Homo sapiens: one gene and its partner. The protein of the gene in region 2 interacts with the protein of the main gene of each other region in a pairwise test. Each region holds a gene or a part of one and is shown on either strand. Other genes may lie near its edges.

What was found. The genes of interacting proteins can lie anywhere in the genome.
Region 1: the proteins of RHOJ (region 2) and SSX3 interact in binary tests that used the Homo sapiens proteins (3 or more experiments, as listed by UniProt).

Annotation. Positions count from the first base shown.
Region 1 is NC_000023.11:48,346,230-48,353,765, reverse strand, and holds the end of SSX3 (protein SSX3), read left to right. Parts: intron 1-1,616; coding exon 1,617-1,666; intron 1,667-3,643; coding exon 3,644-3,779; intron 3,780-4,178; coding exon of another isoform or gene 4,179-4,225; exon of another isoform or gene 4,226-4,369; intron 4,370-5,317; exon of another isoform or gene 5,318-6,161; coding exon 6,162-6,262; 3' UTR 6,263-6,266; intron 6,267-6,730; 3' UTR 6,731-7,339; downstream 7,340-7,536. UniProt on the Homo sapiens protein: Could act as a modulator of transcription.
Region 2 is NC_000014.9:63,284,060-63,291,595, reverse strand, and holds part of RHOJ (rho-related GTP-binding protein RhoJ), read right to left. Parts: intron 3,409-7,536; coding exon of another isoform or gene 3,346-3,408; exon of another isoform or gene 3,279-3,345; intron 719-3,278; coding exon 572-718; 3' UTR 1-571.

The DNA.
Region 1 (7,536 bases), on a different chromosome or scaffold from region 2:
CATGAATGTGAATAAAAAGCCATCAAACTAAGGTGACTGGCTGTAAGTGGAGGAGGGAGGGAGGGCAGGGATTGCTGAGTGCTGCACAGACAGCTTCAGCTGTGACTTGTTGATAGTGTGTTTTGTTTGTTTTTGTTTTTGAGATGGAGTTTCACTCTTCTCGGCCAGGGTGGAGTGCAATAAGGCAATCTCAGCTCACTCCAACTTTCACCTCCTGGGTTCAAGTGATTCTTCTGCCTCAGCCTCCCGAGTAGCTGGGGTTACACGCACGTGCCCCCACACTCAGCTCATTTTTTAATTTATGGTAGAGACGGGGTTTCACCATGTTGGCCAGGCTGGTCTCAAACTTCCTGACCTCAGGTGATCCACCCGCCTCAGCCTTCCAAACTGCTGGGATTACAAGTGTGAGCTACCACGCCCGGCCTGTTTGCAGTTTTTCTAATATTCTGAATAAATAAATCAGACCTAACTTAGCTGTGGGGTAATGTTGAGATCCGACTGGACTCAATATTATTCCCCATACTTTTCTGTGTGTTTGAAATATTTCTTTTTTAAATGACATGTTGTTCTTCCTAAGCACTGTTAATGTATCAAAGGACAGTTAAGAAAATGTTACAAGTGAAAAAAAAAAAAAAGAAAGAAAGTGTTAAAACTGTAGATCCGCCAAAAACTTCCAGAGGTTGTTTCATTAACAGCATGTAGGTATTGGATAGGTATCTTAGGAGTGAGGTTGATGAACACATTATGTAATAAAGATCGCTGTTTCTCTGTATTTTATCAAAACCAAATAGTCTTCTCATTCCCAAATAACCCTGATTCTCTGTGATGAGCTTGAAAGAGAGTTTGAAAGAGTGATCCCTTATCGAAAACACAGAGAGCTTTCCCACTTGTCAGAGAACAGAGATAACATAGGATGAAAAAAAGACAGGTTCTTGGGTAGAGAGCTTTGTGCATTTCAGGAAAATAAAGGGGACATATGTATTTACTTGCTCTTCTACTCTGACAACATAATTATAAGACAAGGTCAGAATGTCCAAACCGTCTCCAATAGACCTATTACTCGCCAACTAAACAGGCCAGATTCTACAATCTCCCGCAATCACTATAAGAGATCTGAAAAGCCAGTGCTTGAGTATCTGCCAAGTTTTTAACGTTAAAGGACTGTCTTTGTACTGAAAATCTTTCAGAGCCACTGGACCAAATCATCCGTGGTTCACCACACATTTAACAGCTTAATTCACATACCATAAGATTCACCCATTTGAAGTGTACAATGATTTTCAGTTGTTGCACATCTTGAGTGGATACAGTTCAGATTCCTAACCAATCAATTTAATTATTTGGGAAAAAGTAAAAGATATGTAATCGAATAAGATGAGACTGTGATGGGGTGTAGTCCCCATGTGATAAACCATGAGATGGAAAATTCTGAATTGATGCCACAGATAAATGCATCAACCATGACTAAACATAATTCAGAAGCAAATCTGAAATAACTCCTCAACAATGCGTGGACTCATAAGCCTCTGCTGCAGAATACCCTGATGCGACAGAAGTCTCTCTAGAGTTTGGAAACCTTTACCAACAATGAAAAATTCTGATGTATTCTCTTTCAGTTCAACGTCCTCAGATGACTTTCGGCAGGCTCCAGGGAATCTTCCCGAAGGTGAGTATCTTTCAGATCTAAAGGACCAGAGAACCTTTGTCCCTCCAAGGATGCGAACACTGGTAAGAGTGGGAGAATATCAACAATGCCCTCACTGCCTTCTTCTCCCCATGTCTATCACAACACCTGATGTAGCACCGACGGCTTGATAGTACCAACATTTGTGATTGTTCATACCTCTTTTGTTTTCATAGTGATGCCAGATACTATTTCAAGCAGTTCACATGGATTAATTTATTTAATCCTTAAGAAGACATTGTTTCTATTATCTCCGAATAATAATGAGTAACACATTTCAGTTTTCATCCATATGATAGCCATATGACTTGGCACAAATCTTCTGAGTTCTCTGAGCTCCAGATTCCTGGTCCATGAAATGGAAGTAAAGAATTATAGTTTATGTTTTAGATCATAGTTATCAGCAACATAATAATAAAATGAGGCTATCGTGGTACAGAGATGTTAAAGAATTTTCCTGAGGCGCAGTGTCAGTGGTAGTCTAATCCAGAGCTCCAAGCCATTTAAAGCTCATTCACGTTTGCATTTGTTTATGAAGTTCAGATGTTGCTCACTAGGGCTTCACCCCATAGGGCCTGCTGGTGCTTCCATTGAGACACCCACTCTCGCAACAGGAAGGACCATCTGGTCTCTGCTGTGTTACTGGGGCCACTTGCATGGCTTAGGAATCGCTTTGATTGTTGGCCCCTCCCTACTGTGAGCTCCTTGAGTGCCTTGTCTGCACCTGGGGCGTCTGGGAAGCCCCAGTCCCAGCCCAGGGGATCCCTCGGAGGCCCCTGAATGAGTGATCCCACAAGTGCAGATTCAACTCTGGTTTGGAGGGTAAAGGGATCTGGGAGTTGGGTTGCCAGTGTGGAGACTGAATTCAAAGAAGGATTGTGAAAGGTATTAATTGTTATTATTACTACATTTAAAGAGTGTTTACAAGCTCAGAGAGCACTTTCTTGTAGCCTATTTTACATGTATGGTTCACTATTTCATAAGGGAGGAAGCTGAATTAAAAGTAGCTTAAGATCAGGGCGCGGTGGCTCACGACTGTAATCCCAGCACTTTGGGAGGCTGAGTCGGGCAGATCACAAGGTCAGGAGATCGAGACCATCCTGCCCAACATGGTGAAACCTCGTCTCTACTAAAAATACAAAACTTAGTGGGGCGTGGTAGTGCCTGCCTGTAGTCCCAGATACTCTGGAGGCTAAGGAAGGAGAATCGCTTAAACGCGGGAGTCAGATATTGCCTTGAGCCGATATCATGCCACGGCTCCCCATTCTGGCGACACAGCAAGACTCCGTCTCAAAAAAAAAAAAAAAAAAGAAAAAGAAAGCAGCTTAAGATTGTTGGTCAGTACACATCCCAATGCAACCAGAATTGGTATGGGTACCACCTCACTGAATTCCACATTCAATTGGTGCCTCGGTAGGGTAGTATGTCATATCTGGTACTGCTTTGTTTGCTGCCTAGATTAATTTCAGCAAGCCATTTATTTCCCTCTCCCTTCCTTGTGTTCATCTCCCCACACCATCTTTCCCAGCAGTGTTTTGTCGCCTCCCTATGTTTTTACATTTACTCTCCCAGCAGCTGTCTACAAGCTTATATGGGATCCCTTGTATTTTACAGAACCTCTTCCCTTTGTAGACCTTGTGAATTCTTAGAATGCTACTCTTCTCCAAATCATCTGTATATCACACTCTCAATTAAATGGAGATTTTTGCTGTTTGCAAGAATGTGAGTCCTAAAAGAGTGGGAAGATAAGCATTCTATCCCTGGAAACCATATTCACTTAGGCCATTCCTTTCCCTTCTAACCTCCCCTCCCAGGTTTCTCCTAATTTAGGCCTGTGTAACTCTCCCAGTGTTGTTGAGAACATTGAATAAGCTAATGCATGTGAAGACCCTTTGTAAGCTCAAAAGCACTATAGAAATGTCACTGATACTATTTATCTATGACCTTCACATTATAAAGATCATGCCCAAGAAGCCAGCAGAGGAAGGAAATGTTTCGAAGGAAGTGCCAGAAGCATCTGGCCCACAAAACGATGGGAAACAGCTGTGCCCCCCGGGAAAACCAACTACCTCTGAGAAGATTAACATGATATCTGGTAAGAGGAAGCAATTCAGGAACAATCCCACTGGCTTCCCTGGCGACGTTCAGGTGTGTGGACTGGGTGTGTGGCATGGATCCCAGATAACCCTGGGTCCAGGCTGGGCTGAGGAGCTTGCCCAGCTCCAGATGAGATGTTAGACATGACTTCCAGAGACAGACTGGAGTTGTCATCCATATAAAAAAAAACCACGTGACTTGAGGAAAGTCTTCCAAATTTCCTCAGCTCCAGGTTCCTAGTCCATAAGATGGAAATAAAGAATCATAGTTCATAAATTGTTTGGAGACATTAAATTTAATCTAGAAGGCCTGATGACATGAAAGGTGCTCAAGCGATTCTATCTGTGATAACCTGGGATCATATCTTACTCAGCTCAATGCCTGTTACCCAATACAGGTGTCCTTCAGAGATACTGCAGGTTCGGTTCCAGACCACTGCAATAAAGTGAGTCACACACATTGTTTTTTGTTTGACAGTGCATAAAACGTTATGTTTACACTACAGTGTAGTCTACTAAGTGTGCAATAGCATTATGTCTAAAAATGTATATACCTTAATTTTAAAATAATTCATTGTTAAAAATGCTAACAATCTTCTGAGCCTTCAGTGAGTCACACTCTTTTTGCTGGTGGAGGGTCTTGCCTCGGTGTTGATGGCTGCTGGCTGGTCAAGGTGGTGGTTGCTGAAGATTGGAGTGGCTGTGGCAGTTTCTTAAAAGAACACAACAATGAAATTTGCCACATCGATTAGCTCTCCCTTTCATGAAGGATTTCTCTGTAGTATGTGATGCTATTGGATAGCATTTTACCCACAGTAGAACTCCTTTCAAAGTTGAACTCAATCCTCTCTAGCTATGAAAGTCCTAGATGGCATCTCCTTCCAATAGAAGGCTATTTTATCTACATTGAAAATCTGTTGTTTCGTGTAGCCACCTTCATCAGTGATCTTAGCTAGATCTTCCGGATAACTTGCTGCAGCTTCTCCATCAGGGTTTGCTGCTTCACCTTGCACTTTTATGTTATAGAGACGGCTTCTTTCCTTAAACCTCACGAACCAACCTCTGCTAGCTTCACAGGTTTCTCCTGCAGCTTCTTCACCTCTCTCAGCTTTCATGGATTTGAAGAGAGTTCTGGTCTTGCTCTGAATTAGACTTTGGCTTAAGGGAATGTTGTGGCTGGTTTCATCTTCTATCCTGACCACTCAAACTTTCTCTATTTGAGCAGTAAGGCAGTTTTGCTTTCTTATTCGTGTGTTCACTGGAGTATTAGTATTATTATTTCCTTCAAGAACTTTTCCTTTGCATTATATACTATTATTTCCTTCAAGAACTTTTCTTTGCATTCACAGCTTGGCTGTTTGGTGCAAGAGGCCTAGCTTTCAGCCTGTCTTGGCTTTCAGCATGCTTCCTCACTAATCTTAGCCATTTCTAGCTTGTGATTTAGAGTGAAAGGCATGCGACTCTTCCTTTCATTTGAACACTTAACGGCCATTGTAAGGTTGTTAATAATCCTCATTTCAGTATTGCTGTGTCTCAGGAAATAGGGAGGCCCAAGAAAAGGAAGAGAGACGCGGAACAGCTCATCGGTGGAGCAGTCAGAAGACACAAAACATTAATCGATTAAGTTTGTCATATTCTATGGGTGCAGTTCCTGGTACCCCCAAAACAATTACACACAACAGGGTGATTATAGTCAATAATAACTTAATTGTACTTAAAAAAACTAAAAGAGCATAAATGGATTGTTTGTAAGGCAAGGATAAATGCTTGAGGATGGATACCCTATTTTCCATGATGTGATTATCATGCATTGCATGCCTGTATCAAAGCATCTCATGTACCCCATAAGAATATACACCTACTGTGTACCCACAAAATAAAGAACAAAAATTATTTTAAAACACTAAAAAACAACAAAAACAATTTTAGTAATAATAGTAAAGCTCACTGATCACAGATCACTATAACAGATATAATAATAATGGAAAAGTGTAAAATTGGTGAGAATTTCCAAAAAAAAAAATTGCAGCATCTGCGAAGCAGTATGAACATGAAGTGCAACAAAACAAGGTATGCCTGTGTGGCTTTAACAAATACGTGCTGTATGAAATTAGGTATGGGGGAATGTTCCCGTAAGTGAAGAGGTTGGGAATCTAAGCCTGAGAAGGGAAGGAGCCAGAAGCTAAAACTTTAATTGGCATTTGGCCTATATTGGTGTGGGTCTAAGGTCTCAGCCTCTCTAAGCCAGAGAATGTGAAAAACTGGATAAAGAAGGCCCATGGGCACTTGGGAGGAAGCAGGCATCTCCTTTTTTTGAGTAAACAGAGCCTAACACTCTCCAACCTACCCAACCCTCACTTTCCAACTATTCTCCATCATAGGACCCAAAAGGGGGGAACATGCCTGGACCCACAGACTGCGTGAGAGAAAGCAGCTGGTGATTTATGAAGAGATCAGCGATCCTGAGGAAGATGATGAGTAACTCCGTAAGAGAACCTTCCACTCATCCCCTGCATCCCTGCAGATGTGCTATTCTGTTATGATACTGGCATCCCATCTGTCACTTGCTCCCCAAATCATTCCCTTCTTATAATTTTCTAGTGTACAGCATTGAGGCTGAATGATGAGATTTCCCATGCTCTTTCTACTCCCTGCCCTGTATATATCCAGGGATGCTCCCTACCCAGGATGCTGTGGGGTCCCAAACCCCAGGTCAGCCCTGATATGCGGGCCACACCTTCCTCTAGCCTAGGAATTGATAGCCCAGGCGAGGAAGTCACTGTGGCATGAACAGATGGTTCACTTCGAGGAACCGTGGAAGGTGTGTGCAGGTCCTGAGATAGGGCAGAATCGGAGTGTGCAGGGTCTGCAGGTCAGGAGGAGTTGAGATTGAGTTGTCACGTGGTGGGAACTCACTGCCACTTACTTTCCTTCTCTCTTCTTGCCTCAGCCTTGGGGATATGACACATGCCCATGATGAGAAGCAGAACGTGGTGACCTTTCACGAACATGGGCATGGCTGTGGACCCCTCGTCATCAGGTGCATAGCAAGTGAAAGCAAGTGTTCACAACAGTGAAAAGTTGAGCGTCATTTTTCTTAGTGTGCCAAGAGTACGATATTAGCGTTTCCATTGTATTTTCTTGAAGTGTGTCATTCTGTTAGATATTAACATTTTCACTGATGAGCAAGACATACTTAATGCATATTTTGGTTTGTGTATCCATGCACCTACCTTAGAAAACAAGTATTGTCAGTTACCTCTGCATGGAACAGCATTACCCTCCTCTCTCCCTAGATGTGACTACTGAGGGCAGTTCTGAGTGTTTAATTTCAGATTTTTTCCTCTGCATTTACACACACACACAAACCACACCACACACACACACACACACACACAGACACACACCAAGTACCAGTATAAGCATCTCCCATCTGCTTTTCCCATTGCCATGCGTCCTGGTCAGGCTTCCCTCACTCTGTTTCCTGGTCAGCATGTACTCCCCTCATCCGATTCCCCTGTAGCAGTCACTGACAGTAAATAAACCTTTGCAAACGTTCCCCAGTTGTTTGCTCGTGCCATTATTGTGCACACAGCTCTGTGCACGTGTGTGCATATTTCTTTAGGAAAGATTCTTAGAAGTGGAATTGCTGTGTCAAAGGAGTCATTTATTCAACAAAACACTGAGTGCGTCCTCGTGCTGAGCGCTGTTCTAGGTGCTGGAGCGACATCAGGGAACAAGACAGACAGGAGTTCG
Region 2 (7,536 bases):
AAAATAGAAATGAATATAAAATGCCTTGTCTTTAGGCTAATTTGGTATGGATTAGTAAGGCCTGAGTGAACTGGAAATTAGTACATTTCTTGAAATAATACAAATGAATGTGAGACACATGGGTAGAACAGCAGATTCAGAAAAAAAGGTTAGTATTGTAGTCCCAAGTTTTATAAAAGACATCAAGTAAGGCCAGCAATAGAGGAATCAAGTTTCTTTTTCGGGTTCCCTGGGGTGATTTCCTATCAGCTTCACGTTCATGAGCTGGGGATTTGTAAAATGTGAGATGGCCTTTGACTTTGTTTTTGATGCGATCAGCAGCGGCACTGTCTGCAATCCAGGCCCAGCATTCTCAGACAGCGTGCAGTACGGATGCTTCTGGCTGGCAGGGAGGTCGTGGCAGTGGGCTGACTAGTGTGCTGTGTTGGGAGGGCTCAGAGGGTGATGGGGCAAGCCTCCGTGCAAAGGGAGTTCCTTTCTGGTCGTGCCCTCCTTTTTGGCTGGAGCTTGGCCACAGAGATTGGCTGCCATTCTCATCCCTGGATGGGGTGGAGGCAGGTCCCAGACAACCTCAGATAATTGAACAGCAGCTGTGACCCTCAGAACAGCGTTTCTTCTTTTTCTTGGGGTGGAAAATGGTGAGGATTGCTTCATCAAAAACCGCTTTGAGACCTTTCTGAGTCAGAGCTGAACATTCCAAGTAGCACTGTGCTCCGATCTTAAACACAAAAGAGAGAAAGGCATGAGAGATAAAAAAGAGAGAAAAGCACAGTGGTATCAACTCACTGCCCAGACAAGCACTTACTTCTGCCTGTCCTACAAACAGCCTGTGGGGTGGTTTGGATTATGTTTGTCTTTTTTTTTTTTTTTCCATTTCAATTTGTATCTGCTATCCTATTTTTTTTTTTTTGTATTTTTGTATTTTTTACTTTCCTTTATTTGCAATAAATGGTTGTGGATTACTTCTGGAAAGCAGTAAATCCTAAAATTGACCCATAGCCATTTATTCCTAAGAACATAAAAAATGCAAAGATCTAAAAAATTAGGAGACAATTCAAAACCAATGATATAATTTAAATATGTTTTGTGAAGAACAGGGGTGCATGATCTTGTTTTTCATATCCTCTCATTTGTAGGCAGAATGTGTAAATCATGTACAAGTGAAATGTATCTTCTTTGGTATGATAAAAGGCAAAGTGTCAGCTTGGTTGATAAAGCAGATAGAAAGAGAGTGAATGATATGGTTTTATAGGTCATTCTTGATTAAAATGTACCTCTTTTAAGGTATCCCTCAACAAGGTAATATCCAATTGGCATTATTATTTAGTTTTAACATACTTTATTTATTTATTTTTGAGATGGATTTCGCTCTTGTTGCCCAGGCTGGAGTGCAGTGGCACCATCTTAACTCTGCAACCTCTGCCTCCTGGGCTCAAGTGATTCTCCTGCCTCAGCGTCTCAAGTAGCTGGGATTACAGGCGTGTGCCACCAAGCCGGGTTAGTTTTTGTATTTTTAGTAGAGACGGGGTTTTCCCATGTTGGCCAGTCTGGTCTTGAACTCCTGACCTCATGTGATGCGCCCGCCTCAGCCTCCAAAAATGCTGGGATTACAGGCATGAGCCACTGCAGCCAGCCTTAACACACTTTAAAAGGCATATTTTTTAAAAAGTTAAAAAAAAAACCCACTAAAACATGTAACAATAACAATAAAACATGTAACGATAATCATAAAAGACATTTAATGCCAGAGACATCCTGTCAGTGTACAGTCTATATATTTAAATGATAAGGTATTTCATACTTGCATAGGGCTTCATTTTAAATATTCTGATGATTTCATACTATGGTGTGTTTGATAATCACAAACCTCTCATGAGAAATATAGAAATTCAGGCCAGAACTATAGATTCTCATTTAAAAATCACAGACCAGGGCAGACCATATTTAGCAGTCAGCTTCTTGTGAAGGAGACCTGCGGTTTTATTTGTTCATAAGCTCAGGAAGAGTCAATGATGTGATGTTGGCCTTTTACTATTAAGGACATCTGGAGAAATGACTTTAGTTTTTGATTCGCATTTTAAGAATCACTTTGAAAAATTAAAGCAGATTCAGAAGAGGTTGGCTAAATGGCGAGTTCCTGGAAACTACAGCAGACAAATGGCTAAAACAAGGTAGCAAAATCATAGGCCTATTATGCCCAATAGCTTATGTAAATGATAAAGTGGGGCTGGCGCAAGACAATAGGGAGAGGAGGGGACTATGGTGGGCTGTAAAGCACATGCCCCCTCTAGGGTGTGCAGTCTTATCAGCTTCCAAGTGGTAATGTTGGTTTACTATTGCCCATTTTTGTATTTTTCAAGAGGAGTTGGACATTTGGATTTTTTATTTAATATTTACCAGTTTATGAACTATTTACCATGGGCCAAGCAAGACACTGATGTGGGATATATTTGGCAGCAGCCAGCCAGTTTGCAATGTGTGGACTAAGTGAACTTGTGGTTTAGCTTAGAACAGAGCGGGAATAACCCCAGAGAGGTAAAATGAATTGCTTATGGGCACTCACCTAGAAAGTGAAAGAAATAGACCCAGAATCTGGGTCTCTTGATACATGTTCATTTCCTTGCTCTGTGGCAGTAACTGTGACCCCTATCACTCAGCTCTGCAAGAAGCTGGTCAAGTTGACAGTTAATGAAATGAGATTGTCCACTTATTTCAAAGGCCACAAATATGAAAACTAACCATCAAATAAAGTGGTTTTGGTTGGGCCCAGACACTATTTCCTAAACTCTCCGACAGAGATTATGCATTTTTCATTTTTTTCCTGACAAGAATGGTTACTGAATGAGCCAAGGGAAAATACCAAAAGAAAACGATGTTGGATGTTGAAAATCTATTTTATGGCTTTCATTTTGACCATGGTTTGGTTTTCAGATTAGAAAATAACTTTTTTAAATAATTAAAAACAGTTAGATACAAGAGAGGAATAAAGCGCAGAGAAAATTTTCCTAATAACATAATGAAATGCCTTCTATTGCATTTTGGGACTGTGTTCAATGCTTGATTCAAACACATGTGAAAAGCACATTAATCTAATGGCAACAGCGTTGCCAACTGAATGATTCTGAATGACTTGACTGTAACGTGGTGGCACTTGTCTGGAAAATACCTAGAAACTGCTGTAGCACCTTTCTATCTGGAATACCTCTCCACTAAGGATCCCAAGCCTAGGATTGATTCTGCCTGGAATTCCAGGACAGCTGGGCTGAGCTCACTCACACCTGGAGTCCTGCAGGAGGGGCAGGGCACTCCCCATCCTCCTGCCCCCAGTGTGCAGCTGACAGCATGTCAGGCTTTGCCTTTCGATGGAGCGGGAGGAGCCCAAGCTTGTCTCTTCCAATTCAGACATTTCTGAAGATAATGAAATAGCAGATAAAGGCATTATTGTGTAACTGAGTTAATATGACATTATGTTGTACTGATAGAAAAAGTAGTCATCAGATTATTGGTGTCATTTGGGAAACACGTGTGAGAAACAATCCAGTTATGAGGTAGGTATTGTTACCATGTGTCAAGTGCTATGAGGGTCGGAGAAGAATTCATCCCGGTTCAAGGAAAAAGCACAGCCAGATTGCTAAAAAAAATGATCTGTGTCCTCAAAGATGTGAAATGAAAAATTGTCTCAAGGAAATGTGGCCCTTATTACAGCAGCAACTTCATCTGCTCCTTGGAGCAAAATGACCTACACAGTCAAGTATTTAGAAGCCATCTGGGAGGGTTCAGGATTCAAGCCTCCTTGTTTAGATACACATGCAAGCAAACTGGAATGTGTTCTACCCAAATGACTTATTTTCAAGAAAAAAGTAGAGATTGAGGGTGTAAACTGAAAAAACACTTTTCTTATTGTTTTATAATAGCTAAAACTTATTATCTCAAAAGCAGGGACATTTATCAGCGATGTACAGAAGATACAAGAGTGATAAGAAAAAAAAAAAAAAACCGTAATGACTAATCAAGTAAAAGAAAACCTAGTACTTCTTCCATGTTGTTCTAGTTGGGGCAGGACAAGTTATAGAATAAGATAGAAAGTAACTGGAAGGGATAAAGGCAAAGAGATCTTCCCAGCTGTAGACATGTCTGAGAGGGCTCATGGATTTAACAGCAACTATAGTTTGCTGAGCTGGACCTTGTGGTACATGAGCTAATTTCATTGTCACAAGAACTTTACAAGGAAAAATCTGTCACCATCCTCATTTCACAGCTCAGGAAACTGATACCCAGAGAGGCTAAGTAACCTCCCTTATGGCCACACAACTAAGAAAATGGCAGAGATTCGAATTTGTCTGCCTCCTGAGCCAAAGTCTTAACTACTCTTTTGGGCTGTCTCTAGCAAATGTCATGAAATTGTGGCTGAAAGAGCAAAATTAATGAATAAATGGGCAAAGCTGTTACGGATATAGTAAAGGTGATGAGAGAAGGGAAGAAGAAGGAAGGCATGTCCTGTAAATGGAGAGAAAAGAAGAGAAGATGTTAGTGGAATAAACAGAGTAAGCTCGTATCTAAAGAAATGGCTAGTAGCAGAGTAGTTCTGTATTCCTCATTTGAGAATTAGCAAAGGCACACAGAGAAGGCAAATAGAGAGCCAAGAAAAAGAAAAAGAACCAAACAGGTTGTAAGAGAAAAGCCGCCATCTCAACAAGTCAGCATTATGATCAAATTGGTGAAAGAGGAAAAACATTTCTAGGCCAGACAGATTTGCTGCTGATCTTTGAAGACTATAATGCAGAGATGCCAATTCAAGGCTGGATAATGTAAAGTGTGTTACTTGAGTATAGGATAATATGGAGTGGTGGGGATTGTGGCAGACTGAAGAATACATGCTTAATCTAAGAGACTGTTTAACAGTTTCTGTTGATGAGGAAATGCTGGGCTAGAGTTGCTCGACCTTCTGAATTTCTTTTAGAGGCTAGAAATGTGTTTCCAAACTATTAAATGTTGGCCACTAAATTGCAATAAAAATATGTGTTTGGACTAATGAAAACATTTGTGGGTGAACTTTGGCCCGTCAGTTGCCAATCTGCTCCCTATGCTTTAAAGGATGCCTTTGCATGTCCTGGTCTCCCTGTCTAGAATTTTATGCCCTCCCCAGACCCCTTTGCCCACCTGAAAAACTTTTCCTCATCCTTCAAACCTGGATAAGATGTTACCTGGTTAAAGAAATCTCTGAAACCTCCTTCCGTGAATGTATTAGTCTCTCTCTCTTCTGTGCTACCTGGTACATTGCCCAGATGTGTGTTACTGTGTTTATCCAGGTGGCATGCTTTTGTTTGCCTGTCTCCCTCCTCTTCTGGCCTTTGTAACCCAGACACCAGTGGTGAAGTGACTTTCAATGACCAAGGGAGAAAGGGAAAATGGCCAGCACAAGGCAGGTGGCAGTGACTCTTCCAGTCAGGAAGAGGGCATTAAAGACTCCAGTTGATTAACGTGACTGAACATTGATGACAGGGTGTTTGCAGCAATTTTGCTGCTTTAAATCCCACCTGTGCATGTTAAAAACCCAGCAGGAAACTTAGCAGGTGCCAAGTTAAAGAGTGACAACGACAAAAGGCACAGTGTGAAGAAGATGGCCGGAGAGGGCAAAGAGAACCCAGAGATTAAAAAAGAAAAAATGGCAAATTCCTGTATCAAAAAATACCTTAGGAAGTCTGAACTTAGAAGATCATGTTTAGACTGTATTAGATAGAACTGGGAAAGAGAATGCACAAAGAATTACAATCTTAGAGCTAAACAGTGTAGCATCCAGCATAGCACCTGGCACATATTAGGTGCTTAATCAATTGTTGTTTAATAATTCTAGCAGCAATAGGGGCAGTTACAAATGTGTAAAAGAATGGGAAAAGTAGGCTGAGGATTAAAAACTACAGTAATAGAAAGAAGAGGGAGAATAAAAGAAGTCAAAGAATAATGAATATTTATAATAAATTAGTGCAAAATATGTAAATGTGGTTGACTTTGGAGTATAAAGAATTGTAAATGTGTATGATATAAAAATGTCCTTTGAAAATAAAACACCCTTTGAGACCAAAAAGAGATGTTAGGTGGAAAATGCTTTGGAAATGGAAAAGTATTGAACAGAAAGAATCAGATATGAAAAATCTGAACTTGCAAAGCCTTTAAGTTGGGGGGGAACTTTGCACATGAAAATAAGGGACTCCAGTATATAAAAAAGAAGCCCCAAACCTAAAGGTTTCTTTTCAGATTATAGGAGGGAGGCAGAAGAGCAGGTGGTTAAAGCACAGTTTTCTATCCTCACTCTGCCACTTGCTAGCTGGGCGATCTTAACCTCTCTGAGCCTCAGTTTCCTGTAGGAAAGTGGAGATAATAATATACACACCTCAGGGGGTTGCTGTGAGGATTAATTAAGACAAAGGCTGTAAGGCGCCTGGCACCAAGCCTAGCACATTATAAACACTCCATAAATGCTAGCTGAGATTATAAACTACTTGACAGAAAAGTCAGAGAGTAGAGAAACTTAAAGCATCTCTATAATTACATGAATTGTGATAAAACAAGTTAAAATCTTGCTAGGTTTTCTTCTAAATTGGATTTTGTAAGCTAAACATGATTCCGTCTGTATCTGAGAGCAGTTGCTAGGAGAAACTAGCAAAAGGCAATATAAATGGTGAACTCAGCCATTGTTCCAAAAATAAGTATGAAACGAGATGGGAGGCTTTGAAACGACTTCTTTTCAGACAGAAAAAAAACAACTTCCCCAATGAGAAGTGAGGCTAGGAAGCTGACGGCATGAAGGAACACAGAACGCGAGTTCCTGCAAGAAGCTGGTGCCGGCCAATGGGGACATCCTGGCTGTGAAAAATGTGTAGAAAGGAGCCACCTACAATTATTTATGGAGCTACATATTTAGGTATCTTAATGAGAGCATTTGAGGATGAATGTTTGAGGAGAAGGTAGAAGCACCTACAGGCATAAACCCATTTCACCCAAGGAAAGATACACAGTTGGAGGTCATTTACGTGACGGTCAGGTACACGAGTGGTGATGTCCACAGAGCTGGATTGGAAGTTTTTGACTTTGTTATTAGCTATGTGCTTGTCTTCTAAGACTGTTTCCTCATCTGTAAGCTGAGACCAACGCTATCTGCTTAAGAGGGTTATTATGAGGCTGAAGTGAGAGATATTATTAAGTACTTAGGATCCTAAGGACTCCATGGACGTCTGGCGCTAGTTAGTATTGACATTACTGTGCATAGAAGTAGGAAGAGTTCAGTATCTCGATCAGGTGTTGTGAGAGGTTCTCATGCAGGATACCTGTAAAAACATGATTGTATTTAATTCATTTCTAGTTGAGTGTATCATGCTTAGTTTTAGTGCCTGCAAGCAAGATTTAATAAGATAAATGCATACAATTTTGTAAGTGAAGAATTTGTAGTTAATATTCTTGACTGGCTTGAAGAGAGTGACTTCTAACTCTGCCTGCGGTATGCGTTTTACTAGGTTAGTCACTTAGAAAGTAAGATTG